2 linked regions of the Homo sapiens genome follow. The protein of the gene in region 2 interacts with the protein of the main gene of each other region in a biochemical or structural test. Each region holds a gene or a part of one and is shown on either strand. Other genes may lie near its edges. The genes, in order: PTPRS and GPC2.

Region 1 (3,908 bases), on a different chromosome or scaffold from region 2:
GGTTCAGCTCCCGCCAGTCGCCCAGTCCTGCCGCAGAAGTGGGGCGGCCTTGATTAAGCAGCCAGTGAAGGGGAACGCCCCAGTTTGCAGTGGCTGAGTCATCCTGACATCTCCCTGGTGCTGGACCCCATCGGGGGGCTGAGGGCGGGGTAGCGGGGCGCGGGTGGACACTGGAGAGCCCCTCTTGGGCAGGTCCTTCAACATATCAGTGTAGCTCCCATGTTGTCAAAAATAATAACAAAAACAGAATAGAGGTGGCAGCTACATTCTAGGTGCCGTTCTGAATCTGTGCTTACACACGTTAACTCATTTCTTCCTCCTAACAATCCCTCAAGGTGGGCACTGTTACTCTTCTCCATAGACAGATGAGGAAGACGGAAGCACAGAGAGGTTGAGCAACTTGCCCCAGGTCACACAGCCAACAAGTCGGCAGAGCCGGGATTTGAACCCCATGCAGCCTCAGTCCAGCATCCTTGCTCTTAACCTCTGAGAAAAGGCAGTCAAGAGCCCTGGGGTGTGTGTGTGCGGGGGGTGTCTCTGTAGCGATTCAGGTGGCCCCCGCAGCAGATGGACTGCTGTCCAAACAAACATCCCTGACAATCGGGCAGAGCTCCTTCCAGGCGTTAGGAATCCAGGTTGTGGCAGCCAACAGCTTGTGGGCTGTGTGAAGTGACCTCAGGCCAGTGAAGGCCCCTCCCTGTGCCTCAGTTTCCCTCTCTGCAAAATAGGGCTCAGATCACAGCAACTCCGCTGACAGGGGACGGCAGGTTGGAGGAGACAAGGATGCTACTGACTTGCTTACTTAGCAGAGGGCCTGGCACGGGGCGCCAACTCTAAATAGTCGGAGCAGCTGTTATTATCCCCCCGACATCCCCTCATTTGCTGATCACGGGGGTTAATTATAAGCGGCATTAAATTATACACACACAGACGCGCCAACCTCGCTTCCCCAGAACCCCTGAATTTCCGCAAACTCTCAATTACCCACGTGACAGCGCGACGATGGGCCATCCTCCCAGCCTCTCTCCCCACAGCCTGCCTCATCCGAGGGTCCCAGGCTTCCAGAGCCATGGCTTCTCCGCCCGCCGGATACCCCTCTGGGTGTCCAGGAGCGGAAGGAAGGATGCATGCGACTGACTGCGGACGCGTTGAGAGCCAGGGGAGGCATGTTTACCCACAGCATCTCATGTCAAGGCTCGCCGCGACGCAGACTGCGACTGTACTGATCTTAGAGATGAGAGAACACAGAGAGGTCAGGCAACCCGCCCTAGTTTGCACAGCTCAAGTGAGGAGGGTGGCTCAAGTCAGGGCTCTGACCTGGAACCCAGAGGGGTAACCTCATTCTGTAAGTGAGGAAGCTCCTGCACGGAGAACTGAAAGGGAAGAGGGGAAGTCATCCAGGAAGGAAGGAAGGCAGGCAGGCAGGTGAGATCTGGGAGAAAAAGGGGAATTTTCAGTTCTCCAGGTAGGGGGAACAGGAGACAGCTGGCCCTTCCTATAAGGGGCTTATGGCAAAGATCAAAAACAACTTAAAAGGAGCAAGGCCACCCAGATAACATAAAGAGTACGAGATGAAATCTGTCCCCATGAAACGGGACATTTGTGATCCAGCCCCAGTTACGGCGATGGGGACCGGAGGAGGGAGTCCCCATGATCCAAAAATCCAGGCTCTGAACCCCCAACCAGGGTGGGATCCGCGGGAATCAGAAGGAAACAGGAAGCCGCACAGAAACCTGGGTTTATTTTCAGATGTGGAATATCCCCTCGGCCTCTGCGGGGCGCAGAGGGTGCCTTGATTCCGGGGAACAGAAGAGGGGATTCCACGGCTAGCCCAGAATAGCACCAGCCCCAAGGTCCAGTCTGGCCAGGCCACGATGTTGGGGGACCGGCAGCTCCATGGAGGAGGAGGAGGAGGAAAAAAAAAAAAGAGAGAGACAAAAATAAAGCGATGTGAAAGTGGAGGGCCTGTCCGTGAATCACTCCTACCCGTTAATTTTCGCCTTTGGAGAAGTGTAAGCCAATTGATTTTTCAAATTCCCCACACACAACCCCCTCCCCAGCGCTTCTCAAATATCAGCCAGAGACAAGACAGAAATGGTACGTCGGGTTTTTTTTTTTCTTCCCTTTTTGGTTGAGAGTCTTTTCTTTCCTTAAAGGAAAAGGGGGGGGGGCGGGGGGGAAACCACACACTCCACACTCTTGAACCTCAGGGTTAGAGAGACCCAGGTGTCACCTGTTTCCTAGACATTTTGGGGCTGCCACTCTCTGCGTGAGACAACAGCCACCCTTTCCCTCGATCACATCCCCTACACTTCACTTCCTCTCTCCGTGTCCCCCTTCCTCAATTCAGAATGTCACCTGGTGATAAGATGACATGCATTTGAGCCTCAATCCCCTTCCAGCATCCCCTCTCCTCTGCCCCGCAAGCCACAAGCTGGCAGCTTTCCGATTCCAGAGCAAGGTAAGGTGTGAAAATGACAAAATTCACAGTTTAAAAAGCCCTTGAAACCTTCAAGCCCCGGATACGTGCCTTGGTCCGTGAATCCATGGTGAATTTTTGGTTTTTTTGTTTTGTTTTGTATCAGCTTGCCACACGAATCCTGCGAGGAACAGCAGTTATGTCTTAATCTCCTCTCCTCCTGTCCCCACCGGAGGCTGAGCCACTCTGCCTGGTGAGCGGTTGGAGGGTGGGGCGGCGGCGGGTGGTGGGGGGGAGGGTCTCTCTTCAAATTCCCCTCCCTGGGCATCTTTTGCCGCAGGGAAGGACGGAGGAAGGGCAACCTGCACAGGCTTTGCCCGAGAAGGGTTCTCATCCTCCTTGCAAATTCTAAGAGGACACCCACCCATTGGAAGGTGAGCCAGGAGCCTACCCTGGATGCAGAGGAGAGCTGGGGAGTGCCCCTTTCTGGGACCCCTGTCTCCTTCCAGAAAGTACGAGACCCTCCCAGAAGGGGGCTACAGCGGTCAGCACTGCGCCCGCCAAACCTAAAGCTCATCTCAAGATCTTCCCGTGGCTCCGACCGACTCTGCAAATGGAGCTTAATGGGTAGCAGGGGGAAGGAATTGCTCTCAGCCGAAAAACATTAAGCTTTGTCAATTATCCCCCAAACCCGCTGGGTTTATAAATATCCCTTTTTATTTTTAGGGTTTTCCCTCCCGCTCGCCCCCATCCCGAACTCTCTCCACGCCCCGCTTCTTCCCCCACGCACACGGCGGCTGCACCGTCACAGAAAGCAGGTGAACGCGGGGCCACGGGGCGCTCGGGTAGAAATGCCACGTCGCACCACCAAGTCACACCGTCCCTGCCCGTCCCTCTCCGGCCATCCCACTAACTATTGTATTGGGGCCATGCAGCCGCTGGAATAATCAGCGAAGCCACAGGTCTCCCCATCTTGGCAAGTGGAGGTGTGCGCTGCCCTCAGACATCTGTGAACCGCTGTTCAACGCCAACCCCGAAGGCAGAAGGGGAAACCAAGTCACCTCCCAGAAAGACGTTTGATGAGCAGAGATAGATTTGCCTCCAGACTGGTACCAGGTCTGGGGAAACCCAGGCAGAGCCCCAGGCTCTATGCGACCCAAAGAAGAAAAAAATGGGTGCACAGTGATGGCTCCAGGTCTCCCCACCCAGATGCTACCACGAAATCCCTGGCATCCACGAAGCTTCCCCCTGTTCCATGGTGGAAATTGGGGGAAAATGGACTTGTGTCTCCAAGCAGGGTCCATGGACACTGGACGATGCCTGAAATCCCCTGGGAGGCAGGGAAAAAAGGCGCACTGAACGCTCAACCGGGGTATAAGGAGTGATTTTTTTTTCTCTGCTGGCAGCAGGCAGGAACCTGGGGTTTGAATGTCCCCTTCTCTGTCGCCACCTCACGCAGACTTCAGAGGCTCTCAAGGTTTCCTGGAGA
Region 2 (3,908 bases):
ATACTGCCCCCGCCCAACCCCCCAGGATCCCTCAATGACTCCACTTCCCTGCTGCTGAAGGCCAGATGCCTGGCTTGGCCTCTCTCACTGCCCATCCTCTACCTGACCTCCCAGCCTCACCTTCTGCCTCCTGACCGCCTCCTCCCTCCCCAGCTGTGATGGGCTCACTCTTGTCCTTGAATGTTCCCTCCACCCCTAACTGCCTCTCTATTTCCACCCCTCCCACGAATCAGAGTCAGCAACCTGGAACCTCCCTCCTCAGATCTGTGACAATCTCACCTGCTGCCACGTGGGGTCACCAACCCTAGGTGTAGGGTGGGGTATGTGATTTCTGTCTGTGCCCAGCACCAAGCCAGGCTGAGAGCAGCCACAGCGTTTGTGGAGGACACAGCCCCACTCTCTGCCCCCAGGTGCCGGTGTCTGAAGGCTGCAGCCAGGCTCTGATGCGTCTCATCGGCTGTCCCCTGTGCCGGGGGGTCCCCTCACTTATGCCCTGCCAGGGCTTCTGCCTCAACGTGGTTCGTGGCTGTCTCAGCAGCAGGGGACTGGAGCCTGACTGGGGCAACTATCTGGGTGAGGGGATTCAAGAAAGCCTGGAGCCAGGCATGGTGGCTCACACCTGTAATCACAGCACTTTGAGAGGCTGAGGCAGGAGGATCACTTGAGGCCAGGAGTTGGAGCCCAGCTGGGGCAACATAGCTAGACGTCATCTCAAGAAAGAAAGAGAGAGAGAGAAAGAAAGAGAGAGAGAGAGACAGAGAAAGAAAGAAGGAAAGAAGGAAGGAAAGAAAGAAAAAGAAAGAAAGAAAGAAAGAAAAGAAAGAAATCAGCCAGGCATGGTAGCGCCCGCGCCTGTAGTCCCAGTTACTCCTGAGGCTGAGGCAGGAGGATCACTTGAGGCCAGGAGTTGGAGGCCAGCCTGGGCAACGTAGCTAGACCGCATCTCTACCAAAAAAAAAAAAAAGAAAGAAATTATCAGGCATGGTGGCACACATGCCTGTTGTCCCAGTTACTCCAGAGGCTGAGGCAGGAGGCTCCCTTGATCCCAGGAGTTAGAGGCTGCAGTAAGCTATGATGATGCCACTATACTCCAACCTGGGCGAGAGAGTAAGACCCTGTCTAAAAAAATCCTAAAATTGGCCAGGCACGGTGGCTCACGCTTGTAATCCTAGCACTTTGGGAGGCGGAGGCAGGCGGATCACAAGGACAGGTCAGGAGTTCAAGACCAGCTTGGCCGGCTGGGCATGATGGCTCATGCCTGTAATCCCAGCACTTTGGGAGGCCGAGGTGGGTGGATCAAGAGGTCAGGAGTTCGAGACCAGCCTGGCTAACATGGTGAAACCCCATCTCTACTAAAAATACAAAAATTAGCCAGGCGTGGTGGCATGCACCTGTAGTCCCAGCTACTTGGGACGCTGAGGCAGAAGAATCACTTGAACCCGGGAGGCAGAGATTGCAGTGAGCCAAGATCATGCCATTGCACTCCAGCCTGGGTGACAGATGAGACTCTTTTTTTTTTGAGACAAAGACCAGCTTGGCCAATATGGTGAAACCCCTTCTCTACCGGAAAAAAATATATATATATACACGTATATATATACACACATATATATACGTATATATATACACACACATATATATATACACACATATATATACACACATATATATACACATATATATACGTGTATATATACATATATATACACGTATATATATATACACACACACACACATATATATATATACACACACACATATATATATATACAAAAATTAGCCGGCATGGTGGCAGGCGCCTGTAGTCTCAGCTACTCCGGAGGCTGAGGCAGAAGAATCGCTTGAACCCAGGAGGCAGAGGTTGCAGTGACCCGAGATCGCGCCACTGCACTCCATCCAGCCTGGGCGACAGAGTGAGACTATGTCTCAAAAAAAAAAAAAATCCTAAAATCCTAAAATTTAAATTTAAATTTTAAAAAAGTCTGGGATGGAGGAGGGTCCTGAGTAAGGCTGGGGGTGAAATGGAGAGGGGCTTTAAAGCCAAATTGGGGGGATACATGAGAGGGAGCTCATGTGAGTTTCCCCCAAACACTTTGCTGCTTCTCTAAGGCCCGAGTGAGGATTTTCAGGAACATCCTAGTTCAGTATCACCACTCATCCCATCCTTTCTCTTTCTCTCCCTCCCTTAAGATGGTCTCCTGATCCTGGCTGATAAGCTCCAGGGCCCCTTTTCCTTTGAGCTGACGGCCGAGTCCATTGGGGTGAAGATCTCGGAGGGTTTGATGTACCTGCAGGAAAACAGTGCGAAGGTGTCCGCCCAGGTACAGGGGAGAGAAGGGTGGAGGTGAGGCCCGGGGCGGGGACGGTGTGGGTGTCAGAGAGGCAGTATAGGGGATCTGGGAAGAGACTCTGGGGTCAGAGTGGGGACGCAGTGTGGTTTCCCCCCAGGGTGACTGTGTGAGGTCTCTTCCCGGTGCCGCAGGTGTTTCAGGAGTGCGGCCCCCCCGACCCGGTGCCTGCCCGCAACCGTCGAGCCCCGCCGCCCCGGGAAGAGGCGGGCCGGCTGTGGTCGATGGTGACCGAGGAGGAGCGGCCCACGACGGCCGCAGGCACCAACCTGCACCGGCTGGTGCGTGGGATGACCAAGAGTTGGGGGCGGGGGGGCCCGGGGCCGGGGATGGTTGTGGGGGTCGCGCTCCAGCTCGCCCCGCCCCCTCTCGCCCGCCCAGGTGTGGGAGCTCCGCGAGCGTCTGGCCCGGATGCGGGGCTTCTGGGCCCGGCTGTCCCTGACGGTGTGCGGAGACTCTCGCATGGCAGCGGACGCCTCGCTGGAGGCGGCGCCCTGCTGGACCGGAGCCGGGCGGGGCCGGTGAGCCTCGGGGGCGTCGGGGGGCAGCAGGGGGCGGGACCGCGGCCGGGAGGGGCGGGGCCGCGCGCGCTAGCTGGCGCTTCGGGGCTGCTCTGCTCGCAGGTACTTGCCGCCAGTGGTCGGGGGCTCCCCGGCCGAGCAGGTCAACAACCCCGAGCTCAAGGTGGACGCCTCGGGCCCCGATGTCCCGACACGGCGGCGTCGGCTACAGCTCCGGGCGGCCACGGCCAGAATGAAAACGGCCGCACTGGGACACGACCTGGACGGGCAGGACGCGGGTGAGACCCCTGCATCCCTGAGCCTGAGCCCCGCCCACTGCCCTGAAGCCTCTCCCCTCTCCTGGTAGTTCCCGCCCGTGCCTCTGCTCTTAGCGTTCATTGATTAATTCACTAATTCATTCAACGAGCATTTATTGAGCGTTGCCCTGAAAGACTGGGGGTAACAGATCAATGAGGGGGTCTGTATCCTTTCAGGCCAGTAGGGGAGACACGAAAACATTCTTAAAGAACAGTGGGAAGCCCCTTATAATGGGCAAAGGGCAGTGGGAAAATGGGGGAGGGGGCAATTTGGGGGAGGCTGGGAAGCCAGGGTGGTGGGTGACATTGAGCTGGCTCCGCAGGGTGGAGTTTGCCAAACAGAGAAGCAAGGCACAGACACTCATTGTTTTCTTCTCTCCTTCTATCTGTCTGTCTCTGTCTCTCTTTGTCACTCTTCCCGCACCCCTCTTCCTGGCTGCTTTCTGCTTCTGTGTACTTCTGATTTTTCTGTTTTTTCCTGTTATCCTCTCTCCCCATCTGCCTGTTTTGTTTTTTTTTCTCTCTGTCTCACTGTCTCCCATCATGATCTCTCCCCCCATGTCTGCTGTCGGATCTCTCTCCTTCCTTCTCTCCCTGCCTTCCTGTCACTCATGGTCTTTCTCCCTTCCCCAACCCGGCATCCACCTGTGTCTCCCTCCCTTTCCTCTCTCTTTCTGTTTTTATCTCAATTTCTTTTCCTCCCTCTGTCTCCCTCTGCTTCTCCCTCCCATCCTGCTCTGTCC

Evidence for each region.
Region 1: the proteins of GPC2 (region 2) and PTPRS form a complex in vitro, tested with the Homo sapiens proteins (one study listed by BioGRID).

What each region holds. Positions count from the first base shown.
Region 1 is NC_000019.10:5,334,103-5,338,010, forward strand, and holds part of PTPRS (receptor-type tyrosine-protein phosphatase S isoform 1 precursor), read right to left. Parts: exon of another isoform or gene 3,355-3,908; intron 3,238-3,354; exon of another isoform or gene 3,146-3,237; intron 2,854-3,145; exon of another isoform or gene 2,760-2,853; intron 2,673-2,759; exon of another isoform or gene 2,586-2,672; intron 2,462-2,585; exon of another isoform or gene 2,393-2,461; intron 1-2,392. UniProt on the Homo sapiens protein: Cell surface receptor that binds to glycosaminoglycans, including chondroitin sulfate proteoglycans and heparan sulfate proteoglycan.
Region 2 is NC_000007.14:100,170,500-100,174,407, reverse strand, and holds part of GPC2 (glypican-2 precursor), read left to right. Parts: intron 1-410; coding exon 411-573; intron 574-2,190; coding exon 2,191-2,321; intron 2,322-2,482; coding exon 2,483-2,629; intron 2,630-2,729; coding exon 2,730-2,869; intron 2,870-2,971; coding exon 2,972-3,147; intron 3,148-3,908. UniProt on the Homo sapiens protein: Cell surface proteoglycan that bears heparan sulfate. May fulfill a function related to the motile behaviors of developing neurons.